Regions from separate parts of the Homo sapiens genome. Here region 2 is linked to region 1. The links come from fine-mapping of genetic effects on gene expression. Tissue or cell type: whole blood. Region 1 holds a variant in brackets; the other region holds the start of a gene. All regions are shown on one strand. Distances are between the middles of the regions.

Region 1 (8,109 bases):
TGAGGCAGGCCGATCACTTGAGGTCAGGAGTTTGAGACCAGTCTGGCCAACATGGTGAAATACAAAAACACTAAAAATACAAAAACTACCCAGAAATCCCTTGAACCCAGGAGGCAGAGGTTGCAGTAAGCCGAGATCATGCCACTGCATTCCAGCCTGGGCAACAGAGCGAGACTCCGTATCAAAAAAAAAAAAAAAAAAAAAAAAAGATGTTTTGGGAAGAAAACATTTATACAATTTTGGAATTCCACACTTGCAGAGCTTTTCGTGTAACTAGGACACAGTTCCAATGTCTGGAGGCTCCAGACCTGGATGGAATTGTTGTTAATGCTCCTTTGAGATTGGCCTCCTGCAAGTTTTCTCTCAGATGTATTGTCATCAGCTGCATTTACTTTAACAGACATAAAGCAGGAAAATATTTCAGAAAAATATTGTAAATGCATTATTAATCAATAGTGACCAGAGGTTTTTCTCCTAGCAAATTATCATAAAGCTTTCCGAGGCAGATTGAAAAGCCACTGGTGAGCAGCCTTATTTATTTCTGCCTATAGATATTTTGTGATCAATTATAATAACATTACATCCCTCATTTCTGCTACAATATATTCAATTACATAGTTAACATTTCCTGCTAACCTTTTCAAATACAGGAAAGCGAATTCCACCTACCTGATTGGTATGTTTCTCTAATGCATATGTTATTCTCATTATCCTTAATTCAAGTGGACATTTGCTTTCTTTGGTTACATAGCTGGGTAACCAGTTATTTACCTGATCTGTAGAATGCATTTAAACTCCTATGTTTCAGGGGATTGATTCATACATATTGTTGTCATTATACTTTCTCTTAACAATTTATCTCTCCCAACAGTCTCATAAAACAGGTTGGTATAACTTTACCCCCTTTTATAGGAACCCAGAGACATTACTACTATATTTTGGGGCGAATTTGTGCCAGCCAGCCAGAAATGTTGTCTTAGAGCCCATGCGGTTCCAATCTATCACATATCCCAGACATACCCCACCTCCCAGGAGAGGCACAATTTGGGGGACTGTTATAGCAAAGAGTTAAGAAAGAAGAAACCATTTTGAAAAACATTTATAATACAGGTCATTAATAATTAGCAGTACTAAGTAATTGTAATACCATGGGGCACACAGGACCTTCTCCAAATATATTTTTCTGTCATAATTAAGATGTATGAATCACAGAGGTAGGAAAAATGTAAAGAACATAAACTATTCCATATAAGGTTCGTATTTCTAGGAATGTTCTGCTTTGTTTGGCATAAGCAATGGACTTGAAGGCAGAAGCATAGCTGGAAATGCAAAATGTGCATCTGTGCTTAATTAAGAACATTTTGAGGACTGCATATTAAGCAATGTGATTTTAAGGCTCAATCATTATAAAATGACCAAAAGCTAAGTGAAGAGTAAGTCAGTCAGCCGGTTGTTTTGTCTATAGACTCTAATTTTTGTTCTCACTTAATTGATTTTTTTTGTCTAAACAGGCCAATAGTATTAATTCTATTTAATACATACTTATCCTAAGAAATAAGTTTTCAAAACCACAGGTGTCATGAAATCCACTTTAATTTGGTTTATGAAAATTAGAAAAGTAGACCAACTCTATGTAAAATTATCTTAAGTGTTTTCAGGCCTAGTCAATTCTCTCCATCCAATTAATTTCTGCCTCCATTCATTTTTCTGAGAAAAATGAAGTATTTGATGGTCTTTTTATAAGGTTCCTGCTATAGGTTGGTGCAAAAGTCATTGCCGTTTGGGACTTTTTTTAAAAAAATACCTCAAATCAGTTCCTAAAGATAGTAAAAGGACTGTGCAAAGGCCTGAAGGCACCAGGGATTTGCTGTTCATAGGGCCCCCAAGCAACCATCTGAGCACAATCACACCAGGAGCCCAAGCCAAATTCTCTACTGCCCAAAGCAGAGATTTTGGCCCAAACCACTGTTACGACAGACTTCCACAAAGCCCATCAAGATCTTTAATATTCATCTACAACAGGCGTAGCTGCGGCCAAGGCTAGAGTTTAAGGCTGGGTCTAGAACATAGTTACATGAAACAACTCTGTACAACTGAAGTTTACCCAAAGAAGTTTCAGTTAGTTCAAAGTGCAGTCAGCCATTTTTGGACAACTAGGTTGAACTATATCTATAAATTTAAATATATTTATACATAAATACCTTATAAAATATAAAAATAAAAATAACTTGAGGTTTAGCATTTGTTTACCTATTAGAGAACAACAAATTCTACTGATAGAGACACAGAGACAGAGAGAAAACAGAGATCTTATAGCAGAAATTCTCTGTCCCTAAGAATGGTATATATATTTTTTTATTTTTAATGAAATATATAGTCAGAAAAAATGCATCCAGGGTACAGTTTGATGAATTTTTGCAAGCTAGACACACCTGTTTAGCTGATAGATCCAGAAAGAGAAAATGTTAGCTCCCCAACAGCCCCGCAGGCTCACGGCCCTCACTTCCCTGCCCTGCACCTGCCTCCCTGAATTCCAGCCCCAGGGGCCTGTCCCAGCCCTGCATTGGAACAAAATGCTCCCAAGGCCTGCCTCACTCACTCCTGCAGTGCCAAGACTCTGTACAAATACCTCAGAATGCATTTATATCACCAGAGCCAGGGTGTGAGGGGAACAGAGAGAAAAATCCTGAATTGATTGAGTTTGAACCTTAAATTACTTTGTTGACCAAAATGGGCCATTGTATACTATCAGTTGAAAAGGGGGCATGAAATAGCACTTAGGTTGATTTGGAGAAGAATCAAGTTCATTTTTTTCAACCTACATCCAACAAAACCTAAAGACAAGATTTAAAAAGCTATCGGCCAGGCACGGTGGCTCACGCCTGTAATCCCAGCACTTTGGTAGACCGAGGCAGGCGGATCACAAGGTCAGGAGATCGAGACCATCCTGTGAATGGTGAAACCGTCTGTACTAAAAATACAAAAAATTAGCCGGGTGTGGTGGCGGGCGCCTGTAGTCCCAGCTACTCGGGAGGCTGAGGCGGGAGAATGGCGTGGACCCAGGAGGCGGAGCTTGCAGTGAGTCGAGATTGCGCCACTGCACTCCAGCCTGGGTGACAGAGCGAGATTCTGTCTCAAAAACATAAAAAATAAAAAAATAAAAAATAAAAAGCTATCTATTCATAAACTGTAGCAAGGGAATTATTCTGCAGCCACTTTCCTTTCAGCAGGGGTTCAGAGTGTCTGAGAGGAGAGTACGTTTTAGAGTAGAAAGAGGAAATGCCAAGGAGACAGCATTTGGTGGGCAAGCGTTGTGTGAAGGTGGGACTTTGGGAAGTGGAGTAGACCCTAATTGGCCTTCAGGTACATTTGGCAGATTTTGATAGGCAAGGGAACAAGTGAGTAATTTAGGAACATTTCAAAGGAGGAAAGATCGTTCAGTGTTAGGGGCAGAGCGTTTTCTGTGACCAGCCATTTCCTGAAACATGTCCGGGTCAAAGGGGTGCTATTTTGCAGTGAAACTGTCGTCATGGTCCTTATGGGGGCTGCTGCCACAGCAGACAGTTTCTCAACTGAACACATGCCCTGAAAATTGAGCTAACAACACATCTTGAAGTGTTGCGTTTCCATATGAGTGATACATATGAACATAATGAAAAACTGATTGCAGTGAGTATAAGTACCGCTCAACAATTAACAAGCTCTATGTAATACATACCATTAATCAATTACTCATGCATTACCTAATTTCAGGACTAACCTCCTTCCCCTAAGATGCTATTTGGAAATGGTTCCTTATTATACTTTCTCTCTCCACAACCCAGAATTTCCAGTTCGTGAATAGATTTAAAAGTGGTAAACACTGCCAAAGTAGCATTCCAAATTGGAAACTGTGGTATTCAAACTTTGTTAATATATGTCCCTATAAATAATAAAAATTGTATTACATTTAATAAGCAGTTTTCAGTCTTTATCTTGCTTGATCTCCTGTCAGTCCCAAACCCAGGTGGTCACACCTGCCTTAAAACTCTCCCTGACCCCCATGACACCACTCTTTTTTGGCTTCCCTCCTATTCCCATAGCCCCTCCCTCCTAATCATCTACAAAAGCTGCCTTCTTCCACCCTGTCTCCCTCAGGCTTAGTCCTAGACTCTCTGCTCTTCTCATTCTGTATATTCTTACAAGGTGATATCAGCTACTTCCATGACTTAATTTACAATCCATATGTTATTATCTCCCATATCAATATCTCCAGCCCAGATTTCTCTCCCAAGCTCCAGACATTTTTATTCAACTGCTTCCGGGTCACCTTCATGTGAACCATTCAGAGTACCTCAAACTTAATATGTTTGGTCTGAAACTGAACTTATCAACCTGCCACCATTCAATAAATGCAGTCCAACTATCTGGTATTCCAAGCTAAAGATCTGAGAGTCATCCTTGATTCCTCCCTCTTTATTACCCCCACAACCAATCAATCCCTAAGTTTACACATTTTACCTACTTGATATCTTTTAAATTTATTCACTCTTCCCTATCTCCACTGCCACCTATAGTTCAGACTACACTCATTATTCCCACACACAACTGTGACAGCACCCTTTCGCCATTCTTACTCATCTTTGCCATTCTCCACACTGCAAACACAGTGATCTTCAAAAAGCACTAAGATGGCTATTTTATTCCCCTGCTTCAATTCTTTTAACCAACTCCTATTGCTCTGAGGATGGAGTACTAACCCTCTCTCTTGGC[A/C]CCAAAGCCCTTCACAAATTAGTCCCTGTTTACTCCTCTGGCCTTTGACCTTGTCACACTACGTTCATATGACAATAAAAAAGTTTCCCATGAGGCCAAGCAGGATAGCTCCCATCTATAATCCCAGGTCTTTGGGAGGCTGAGACGGGAGGATCACTTGAGCCCAGGAGTTTGAGACAAGCCTGGGCAACGTGGTGAGACCTTGTCTCTACAAAAATATTTATAAATTAGCTGGGTGTGATGGTGTGTGCCTATAGTCCTAGCTACTCTGGAGGCTGGGGAGTGAGGATCACTTTAGCCCAGGAGTTTGAGGTGACAGTGAACAATGATCACCACTGAACGCCAGCCTGGGTGACCAGAATAAGATGCTATCAAATAAATAAAGTTCCTCATAGAAACAGCTTATGTATTTCTGCCTTTAGATTATCTCTCCATAGAGGGTAGACCAGGTAGAGAAATTAATGTCATAATGCCTTCAACACCATTTGTTTCTGTCCTTATATTCACACAAGTCTACTTTATGAAAATTCCTGGCCCCCAGTACAAAAACTCAAAATATTTGTCTTCAGGTTTCCACCAATAAACTCACTAGGCCCATGTAAATTCTGAATTGTGACCTCAGCTCAGCTGAGACCTCCACTACAACAAAATGGATACTTTTCTACAATTGAAGCAGCAAGGCTGATATAGAGGAAAGACCCTTGACACACGGGGTTTCAAATCTAGTCTCTGTCACTTACCACTTGTGTAACCTTAGGCAGGCTACTTAACGCCTCCAAGTCTTTGGTTACTTATCCATAAAATGGATCAGAATGTCTATTTTATTTGATGGAGGACTATAAAACAGCTCAGTGCTTGAAATAACTGTATGTATTCAACAAGTATTGGCTCGTTTGTTCTTTTGCAAGCCTCCAAGAATTATGTAGAGGTGTAGACTTTAACATTGCACCCTGCATCTGAATTGCCATGGGTGCCACAGAAACTGACATCCTCCTCTGTCTGACACTTGGCTTTCTTTCAAGTCTGTTCAAGTCAAGCAAAGAAGATTTACATTAGGCTATATTTTCATTAAAATATCACTCCAGATACTACCACCTTTGAAAACCCCAAACAAGTAAAAATGGCTCTTCTTTTTAATATAAAATTAATTTCAGTTGAGTATTATGGGTTTTGCCACTTTCAACATAAATAGAAAATCTGAATTTCTTTGGTTGAAATTCTAATAAGGTCTACCTTGTTGGGTCCTTTTTAATTTTTCCTACTTTTTCCTTTTCAATATTATCTATCAATATTAATATAAGCCCAACTTTTTTCTTTCTAGAAAATTAGAGTGAATATCAAGATACTCATAAAGCACATTAGGAAGCATTTCTGTTGGATTTATTACTATACTCTTAGAACCTTAAAGTCAAGAAAAGACTTACACACAGGGAGAACACATATCCCAGTTTCCCCAGGACATCTGCCCAGCTTATCCTTGTGTTCATCTATTGTCCTGAGTAAATTGTTAATAGTACCTTTCACTCGCAAAAGTGATTAGCTTAAATGATAAATTGTATGGTCATGGACATATCATGTAGTCAGATTGTTCAGACACCTGGTGCATTTTAAAAGTATATACTCATGGCCAAATTCAGTGGCTCACACCTGTATTCCCAATACTGTGGAAGGCCGAGACGAGAGGATTACTTAAGCCCAGTAGTTCAAGAGAAGCCTGGGCAACATAAGGAGGCCTCATCTCTACAAAAAAAAAATTTTTTTAATTAGTCGAGTGCGGTGGCACACGTCTGTGGTCCCAGCTACTTGGGAGGCTATTGTGGGAGGACTGCTTTAGCCTAAGGGGTCAAAGCTGCAGTGAGCTGTGATTGCACCACTGCACTCCAGCCTGGGCAACAGAGCAAGACCCTGTCTTTAAAAAATAAAGGCCAGGCCTGGTGGCTCATGCCTGTAATCCCAGCACTTTGAGAGGCCAAGACAGGTGGATCATGAGGTCAGGAGATCGAGACCATCCTGGTTAACACGGTGAAACCCCGTCTCTACTAAAAATACAAAAAATTAGCCAGGTGTGGTGGTGGGCGCCTGTAGTCCCAGCTACTCGGGAGGCTGAGGCAGCAGAACCACGTGAACCCGGGAGGCTAAGCTTGCAGTGAGCTGAGATCGCGCCACTGCACTCCAGCCTGGGCGACAGAGCGAGACTTCATCTCAAAAAAGACAATAATAATAAATAAAATAAAATAAAAATCTTTACTCTTTAGCCCTATCATGTACATCAAAATCAGTATGGGACTCAAATTTATCTTATGAAGGTTCCCAAACAGTTCAAGTAATCCGCCAGTTTTTAAAATGCCCTTGTCTAATTTGCCCCCTTGTCTACTCTTTTCTAGCATGGGAGGAACTTCCCCCAGAGAAGGCTGAGAGATACCAGAGTGTGTTGGTTTTTCCTCAATTAGAGATTTTTTAGAAAAAGACTGATATCATTTCCTAAGAATGCAGATGAGGTGTCCTGCCAGCTTCTTCAGGTGGATTTCCCAGGATGATTTCAGCATTCTAATAATGAGAAAAGGTAATATTTATGGAGAATTTACTGTATGTTGGGTGCTATACTCAGTAATTGATTTGTATTGTTTTATGTAATTCACTTAAAAACTCTTTAAAGTCTCACCAAAGGAGATATATGGATGGGAAATAAGTACATCAAAAAAAAGTGCTCACCATCATATATCATTAGGGAATTGCAAATTCAAACAATGAGATACCACTACACACCTATTAGAATAATTAAAATCTAAAGCACTGACACACCAAATGCTGGTCAGGATGCAGAAAGGCAGAGTCTCTCATTCATTGCTAGTGGAAAATGCAAAATGTTATAGCCACATTGGGTAACAGTTTGGCAGTTTCTTACAAAGCTAAACATATTCATCCCCTACAATCAAGCAATTGCACTCCTTGGAATTTAACCAAATGAATGAAAAACACAAAAACCTGCAGCATTATTCTTAATCGCCAAAAGTTGGAAGCAATCAAGATGTTTTTCAGTTAGTGAATGGATAAATACACTGTGGTAGATTCAAGAAATGGAATATTATTCAGCAATAAAAAGAAATGAGCTATCAAGCCATAAAAAGGCATGAAGGAATCTCAAACGCATATTGCTAAATGAAAGAAAGCAATCTGAAAAGACTACATACTGTATGATTCCAACCATATGACATCCTGTAAGAGACAAAACTATGGAGATAGCAAAAAGATTAGTGGTTTCCAGGGGCTGGGGTCGGGAGAGGGATGAATAGGCAGAGCACAGAGGATTTTGAAGGCAGTGAAACTATTCTGCATGATACTGTAATGGCAAGTACA
Region 2 (8,095 bases), 220 kb after region 1:
TTATGCTAGCAGTAATAAATGACCCCAAAATCTCAATAACGTAAAATAACAAAAGTTTATAGTTCATTCATGTTATATAAAATCCAGGGATCAATTGGAATCAGGGTGAAAGAGCAGCTGTCATCACAAATGTTTCCCGCCATGCCAGAAGGAAAGAGTTCTGGAGCATTAGCAATCAAATTCTCACTCTAAGATGACATACATAATTTTTGCTCACATCTCATTAGCCAAAAATAATCACATGGTTCCACCAAACCACAGAGGGACACACATACAATGCTATCATGTTTGCTGGAAGTTGACAAGCTGGAAATATTTGGTGAAGATTACTAACAACTGTCACACTGCATTAACAACTGGAAGTCCGACATCAATTTTGGATCTCTTTCTGACATCTGTTTACCCATAAACTTGAAAGTGCATTATTCCATTCGGTGTTGTACATAGGCTCATATTCACTGTCTCAAAGCTTTTTGATATACAATAATTAAATAGGCTGGGCATGGTGTCTGATGCCTATAATCCCAGCACTTTGGGAGGCCGAGGTGGGCAGATCACTGGAAGTCAGGAGTTCGAGACCAGCCTGGCCAACATGGAGAAACCCCATCTTTACTAAAAATACAAAATTAGCCGGGCATGGTGGCGCATGCCTGTAATCCCAGCTACTCGGGAGGCTGAGGCAGAACTGCTTGAACCTGGGAGGTGGAGGTTGCAGTGAGCCGAGATTGTGATTGCACTCCAGCCTGGGCAACAAGAGCGAAACTCTGTCTCAAAAAAATAAATAAATAAATATTTCACTTTTCCAAAGATTTCCCATTGTTCTAGTTAGGCTCTATCCTGCTCACTGACCCTGTAAAAGTTTGCACTGATTATTGAATGAACGAGTACAATGCCACATGTTTCATTTCTTTAAGTATGTTCTATGTCACACATAAGAATTTCTCTCCAATCATTTTAAGTCACACTCAAGGGGAATGGGTTTTTCTTCATTTATTGCTTTTATTCCTATCCTAGTCCATGTGGAGATTCTGGGATGGGTGGGGCATTCCTGTATTGCAATTTTATGTCCTTATTGGCAGTGTTAAAAATGTCCTGTATTGACATATTTTGTGATTCACGGAGCTCCACCCTTTGCTAATCTCATCTTGGTTTTTTTCCTGCTCTTTCCAAGATTGCAACATATGCTTAATAAAGGATATAATTTATATTTTAATTTTCATACAGTGTATCAAAGAATTGCATTTTTGCACATCTTGCCATTCAAATCCAGTCTTAAGTATAATCAGACATGTTGTCTTAGAACCTGTTTTCCTTCTCTCTTTCTTTTTCTCCTGTCTATATTCACCTGACACTTCTCCATCCCTTTTTCCTGTCAGCTGAGACTCAGCATGTCAAAAGGATATAAAATATTTCCTCTTAACTGCTAATAGATGTTTAAAATTCTACTTTAGCGTCTCTCTTGCTGTTTTTTTTCTTTCGAGACAGCATATCGCTCTGTTGCCCAGGCTATAGTGTAGTGATATGATCATAGTTCACTGAAGCCTCCAACTCCTAGGCTCAAGTGATCCTCCTGCCTCAGCCTCCTGAATAGCTGGGACTGCAAGCACACACCACCACACTGGCTAGTGTCTCATTTTTTCAGTTAACTTTGTGCAATAGTGACATCATTAACTATCGTGGCAGCTTAAGAGATCTTAAGCTTGTTCAGTGCAGCCCTATCCCAATTCAGATATGGAGTTCTCTCCACCATGCCTTTAGGTATCTAATAGCTGCTTAGGCTTACGGGCATTGGAACATTGTAGAAAAGCAACCAAAACAGGAACTCCTCTACAAAAAGCAGTCTTGCTGGGTTTTCAGCTAGTGGTGATATGTGCGAAAGGAGCCACTGCACATCTTGACCCAGAGATAGTGGAAGGGGAGGGCATTCCTCTGAGAAGGCAAAATACTTGACTGGTTAAGTCTTCCAGAACCTTGAAAGGAACTTTTTTTTTCTTTTTTTAAGATGGAGTCTGGCTCTGGCACCCAGGCTGGAGTGCCGTGGCGCGATCTTGGCTCACTGTAACTTCCGCCTCCCGGGTTCAAGCGATTCTCCTGCCTCAGCCTCCTGAGTAGCTGGGATTACAGAAGCAAGCCACCACACCCAGTTAATTTTTGTATTTTTAGTAGAGACGGGGTTTCACCATATTGGTCTGGCTGGTCTCAAACTCCTGACCTCGTGATCCTCCTGCCTCGACCTCCCAAAGTGTTGGAATTACAGGCATGAGCCACTGCATCCGGCCTGAAAGGAACTTTTATCAGTGTATCTTCTCTCAGCTCCTCATGAGGCTTATCCTGGGTGGTGTGTGCTGGAGGCTGGGCAGAGGGTGCTTCTTAGACAACTTCCAAGGTAAGTTCATAGGCAACATTTCCTTTGCTACTCTCTCTTTTCTTCTCTCTCGTCCTCAGGATTACCCTCTGCATCTTTTCCATATGAAAACCCCATTTCCTCTTTCCTTTATTGAATGCCCCTCAAAATCAGAACTTACATCATTAGGCATTATTCTCTATTTCCTTGATGATATGGAGGATGAGATTTTCAGACACTATGCAGAGGTAAGGGGAAATATTTATATTCTGCATGAGAGTTGGGAGAGGGGAGAAAGAAATCCTCCACCCCAGATCGGGTTAATTCATCAAAGCAACTCATTAAATTTTCGTGTTAAAAGAAGTTGAACATTCACACTTCGCTCTACTTGGAGCTTCATTAAAATGCAAATGAACACAGAAGGGTATCTGTTCTTAGTTATCTGGCCTAACTAAAGATTAATTGCAAACCCTTTCCTGAGAGTAATTTTTGATAAATGAGAACTAGGGGGAAATTAGGTGCTTGAGAGAGATGCAGAAAGGGCACAGCTGGAGGATGTGACAAGAAAAGAATTGGAAAGACTATGGGAAGGTTTTGCTGTAGCACTGCACAACTAAAGTTATATTTACTTCCTAAACCACAAACTTAAAATACGCATATAATTATACTTTCCAAAGAAATATCATGGTTTATTCCTTCCAACTACCTATGAATCTTGCTCTCAGTAACCATGCCTGTCTTCTCCATAGTCACACCCACCTGGTCTAAACTATACCTTTCTCTTTTGCAACAAACTTAAATTCACTAACCCTATCTGTGAACTTGGATACAATTCCCTCATCTTTCATGTGCCACCAGTCCAAAATAAAGATTTTCAATGCTAGTAACTTTATGTATACCTCAGTGAGCATCCAATAAATTCTGTACTCTCAGCCTACATCCCCATAACTGCTCTTTTGAGAAGAGATGAGACCAGAACACACCTGAGATGTTCAAAGCAAAGATGTCTAAGGGATTCAAAGCTAACTTCAAACCAGAGCATGTCTAGCAAGTTGGCTTTTTCAAAGAACTCCAACATCATTGGAGGGACTAAGAAAGCATGGGAGAAATGAATGCTATAATAGGAGTGAATGGGAAGCAATTTGAGACCAAAAGTAGAGAATCTAAGTAGCAAAAAATGACCAATTTTGTAAAAAAATCAAAAGTTGCCAATAAATGGCTATCAATGAACAATAGGAAATGCCATTAGCATCAGCGGTAGTGGGAGTATTATCAGATATGTTACCCAAGGATTCTACACAAAGGAAGAGGAAAGTTTGGGATATTTGAAGACATGATGACTTTACTGTAATAATTATTATCTATTACCTTGATCGTCTTCTTCAAAGTTAGAGTGGTCTAGGGAAGCTAGGGACAAGTTTTTATTAACTTTGTTAGTCTACCCACCTTTCTCCCAACACTTCAAGAATTTGTGGCCTGGGAAAACTGTGTTATAATAGGACATCCCAAAGCTGCTGGAACATCCTGACGCTCTGAAATTGAAATACTTTTCTGGGAGCTGATACATTTATTTAGCTGCTGACCATAACACACCAAAGACTGCAACAGACCCCACCCTGGAAGAAAAGCAGGCAGAGAATAAGGAAGTCATATATCACTGGAGAAAAATTAGGATTCTCCAAGCTGTGCATACTTTTTGTTTTAAATTTTTTACACAGGCTTGACAATGTTTAGAAAAGCCAGTCCAACATTACCAATAAAAGATTAGTGTTTAACCCCATATCCCATAATTGACACTGCAAATAAGACATTTAGGATTTATCTTGAAATTCCTACTGAAGTTCGATTTTCTTTTAATCACTGCTAAATCTGCATCAAGTTACACAAACTTTCTAACAGAAAAGTGTTTGTGACTAACAATAAATGAACTCCGTTCTTAGTAAGTTAATTTTAAAACATAGATGATCATTCTATCTCCTTAGTTTTGGTTGCCAATGCAAATGAGTCAGAGGATTTGCTTCAGACACTGAGATAATTGTGTAACTCTACAGCGGAAAATGCCATTGGAGAGTACTTGCTGACCTCACAGTTGAAAAAAACTATTTAAAAGATGTGGAAACCAGATGTTTCAGTCACATTTCAGCCACTGCTCTGAGAATTTGTGAGCAGCCCCTAACAGGCTGTTACTTCACTACAACTGACGATATGATCATCTTAATTTACTTATTTCTCTTGCTATGGGAAGACACTCAAGGATGGGGATTCAAGGATGGAATTTTTCATAACTCCATATGGCTTGGTAAGAACCTTCACTCATGAGCCTCTTGTTGAGAATGTCAATTCTTTAAATCATGGAGAAGGAAATTTAAAGCAGTAACTTTTTCTATTCTGTACAAGGCTGATGTTCTCAAAGAAAATGCTTAGGAAAGATAGCCTTTGGAATACATACGCTTTTTTTTTTTTAAGCGTTCTTGTCCTCTAAAATTTAAAAATAGCATTTTATAAAGTGAATTGTTCAGTAGAAAATAGCAGTTAATATTTATATTCAGTATGAAAATATATTTTTAAACTTTTCAAAGCAGATGTAGTAGTACAGTGAGGAGTATTTCTTTAACCAACTAGAAACTCCAATATAGTCTTCTGTTTTTATGTCAATGCATTTGCAATCAGATTTCAGAATCCTAACAGGTAAATTGGAGTCTACGAAAATTTTATAATAATTGCTTCATGGACTCTGAGCTATAGTCTATATCTTAGTTTTTTCAAACATTTTGACTATTTTGACCAAGCCAGCTTGCAGTACAGAAAAAAGTGAAAAATGTTTCTCCTTCTGAATGCATTCTTACCACTTTGATTCTTTCTGTTTCTACTATCCATATAAATACTTTTCTGACCCTTTTGTTAGACAAGGAAAGTTTCTTTTGTTATTTTGTTTTGTTAAATGTAAGGAATGAGACAGGCCAAACAGTGAAGATAAACAATAGATCAAAAAAGGAAAATGCAGAAAATCCAAAACACCCCTTAGATTACAGTATGCTAAACAATGCTTTAATTCTCATGATACAAATTGATATTGCTCTATGTTCATTATTGTGTTTAATAGTAAAAAAAAATTGAATTTCTTGGGGAAAAATGCATAGATTCTTGCATAGAATAAAGAAATAAAGAGAAGGCGAAATTAACCTAGATTTTGATTTTATGCTTTCTAAACAGCACAGTTGTAGAATATTTTCCCTTTCAGCATGTTTCTCTCTGGTAATAACTGCAACCATGCGGATTTCATTAAAAAGCCTAATTTGTAATGCACAGCCTTGCCGCCTATTTTTTTCAGCTTGAGCCAGTGAACTAATTTCACTGTGATCCATTTGGCCAAGACGGGATCTGAAATTTAGTAGAGGAATGAGCCCATCTCTTTATTTTAGTTGAATACAGTCAAATATAGGAAATACACTCATATTTGTCAGGATTTTTTTTAAATGTCATAAAGCTAGTAAGAATTAAATCCAGGCAGATAAACTTTGAAATATTATCAAACCCTCTAATAATCAAGTAATTTAGAGTTGTCTTTTAAAGTGTTGTCATATGTTACAAAAATATAAACCTGGACAATAGAAGTTTTGCCCCAGAGGTAGAGAGAAGCAAATTCAAACGTCTATTAATGTATGCTACAAATCTGAGGGTCAGGATAATTGCAAATTGCTTCAATCTGGGGCAAATTTTTGACCAGCCAGCCTAGCACAGATGTTTATAGTTGGTTGGATCAATATAATCTTTTTAGAAACCATTTAGGAAGGAAAGATAGTTGGATTAGAAGGGATACATCTGTTAGCAACTATCAAGAACAGGACACTTTAAATCTAGGGTGTCCCATCTTTTGCCTTCCCTGGGCCACATTGGAAGAAGAATTGTCTTGGGCAACTCATAATTTTTTTTTTTTTTTTTTTTGAGGCAGAGTCTCGCTCTGTTGCCCACGCTGGAGTGCAGTGGCACCATCTCGGCTCACTCCAAGCTCCGCCTCCCAGGTTCACGCCATTCTCCTGCCTCAGCCTCCCAAGTAGCTGGGACTACAGGCACCCGCCACCACGCCTGGCTAATTTTTTGTATTTTTAGTAGAGACAGAGTTTCACCATGTTAGCCAGGGTGGTCTCAATCTCCTGACCTCGTGATCCGCCCACCTTGGCCTCCCAAAGTGCTGGGATTATAGGCGTGAGCCACCGCACCTGGCCCAGGGAACTCATAATGTTTTAAGAAAGTTTACAAATTTGTGTTGGGCCACATTCAAAGCCGTCCTGGCAGGCCGCAAGTTGGACAAGTTTACTTTAAATTCTCTAGGTTATGGTTCCAATCTGGTAAAATGATAAGGTTGAAGTAAAGGATCCCTAAGGCTTATTTTAACTCTGGTATCATCTAATTTTTAAAATAGTACTTAAAACAAAAACAAACCACAGTTAAGGACAAGAAATTACAATCATTTTACATGGATCATGAGAATAAAAAATGCACAGATAAGCAATTATTTTTATTGTTGAATCTGAAAAAGAAGGGAAAGGAAGGTGGGATGCAGTGGTTCACACCTGTAATCCTAGCACTGTGGGAGTCTGAGGTGGGCAGATTGCTTGACCCCAGGAATTAAAAAGACCAGCCTGGGCAACATAGAGAAACTCTGTCTCTACCAAAAAAAACACAATTAACTGGGTGTGGTGGTGCATGCCTGTAGTCCTAGCTACTCAGGAGGCTGAAGTGGAAGGATCACTTGAGCCCAAGAGGCAGACGTTGCAGTGAGCCGTGACCTCACCACTGCACTCAAGCCTGGGTGACAGAGTGAGACCTTGTCTCAGAGAAAAAAAAAGAAAGAAAGGAAAAGTGACGTATCTTGAGTTCCTTCTATGGTCCAGAAGCTATCATTAGTCCCATTTGACAAATGAGGAAACTGAGGCTCATCTGGTTATACAACTCCATGGTAGAAACAGCAGTGGAACCAAAGTCCATTTCTACTGCCGCCACTCACTAAAAGGAGAAAACATTTATTAAACAAATTTTCAGTTTTAATAAATGACTATTGACTAGATAAATTAATAAAATATTATTGCTTCTGAAAGGTAAAATTAGGATTCATTGTACAAAGGTCCATCTTAATAGCTCAAAATTCTGAATTGAGAAATATTTTTAATAAAACACCTTATTTAAAATTGTCAGGTACATACTCCAAGAGTTCTCTATTTGTTCATATGGCAACATACTGGGAAGTTTGGCGCTATTAGAGGAACAATGTGGAATGTTAATATTTAATAAATTAAATCAGAAATTATAACAAAAATTTTTTGCTATTTCTGTTATTATGTTATTACTAGACAAGTTTCAGTAGGTACCAAAAGTTTAAGAAAAATTACTGAGGGTGGGAGAAGGGAGAGGAACAGAGGTACTGGGTTTAATTCCTGGGTGATGAAATAATCTGTACAGCAAACCCCTGTGATGTGAGTTTACCTATGTAACAAACCTGCACATGTACCCCCGAATTTAAAATAAAAGATTTTTAAAAAATGAAAAATTACTTGGAGGAAAACTTAAAATTATTATTTTTTTAAATCTGTTAATTTTTTTGTTTTGTTTTGGTTTGGTTTTTTTGTTTTTTGAGATGGAGTCTCACTCTGTCGCCCAGGCTGGGGTGTTGTGGCATGATCTCTGCTCACTGCAACTCTGCCTCCCTGGTTCAAGCAATTCTCCTGCCTCAGCCTTCCAAGTAGCTGGGAC

What was found. PIP is the estimated chance that this variant, and not a neighbour inherited with it, causes the effect.
Region 2: TNFAIP6 starts here. The variant in region 1 is fine-mapped to the expression of TNFAIP6 in whole blood (TOPMed, PIP above 0.99).

The regions. Positions count from the first base shown.
Region 1 is chr2:151,137,402-151,145,510 of GRCh38, forward strand. No RefSeq gene overlaps it. Among named protein-coding and RNA genes, the nearest start is that of RBM43, 120 kb to the right of the region's middle. The variant A/C (reference allele first, on the strand shown) is at 4,753.
Region 2 is chr2:151,353,118-151,361,212 of GRCh38, forward strand. It overlaps TNFAIP6 (TNF alpha induced protein 6), which reads left to right and starts at 4,475. Exons shown (of 6, transcript NM_007115.4): 1 at 4,475-4,643. The coding sequence starts at 4,550. The region is part of intron 2 of LOC101929319 (a long non-coding RNA gene); the gene reads right to left.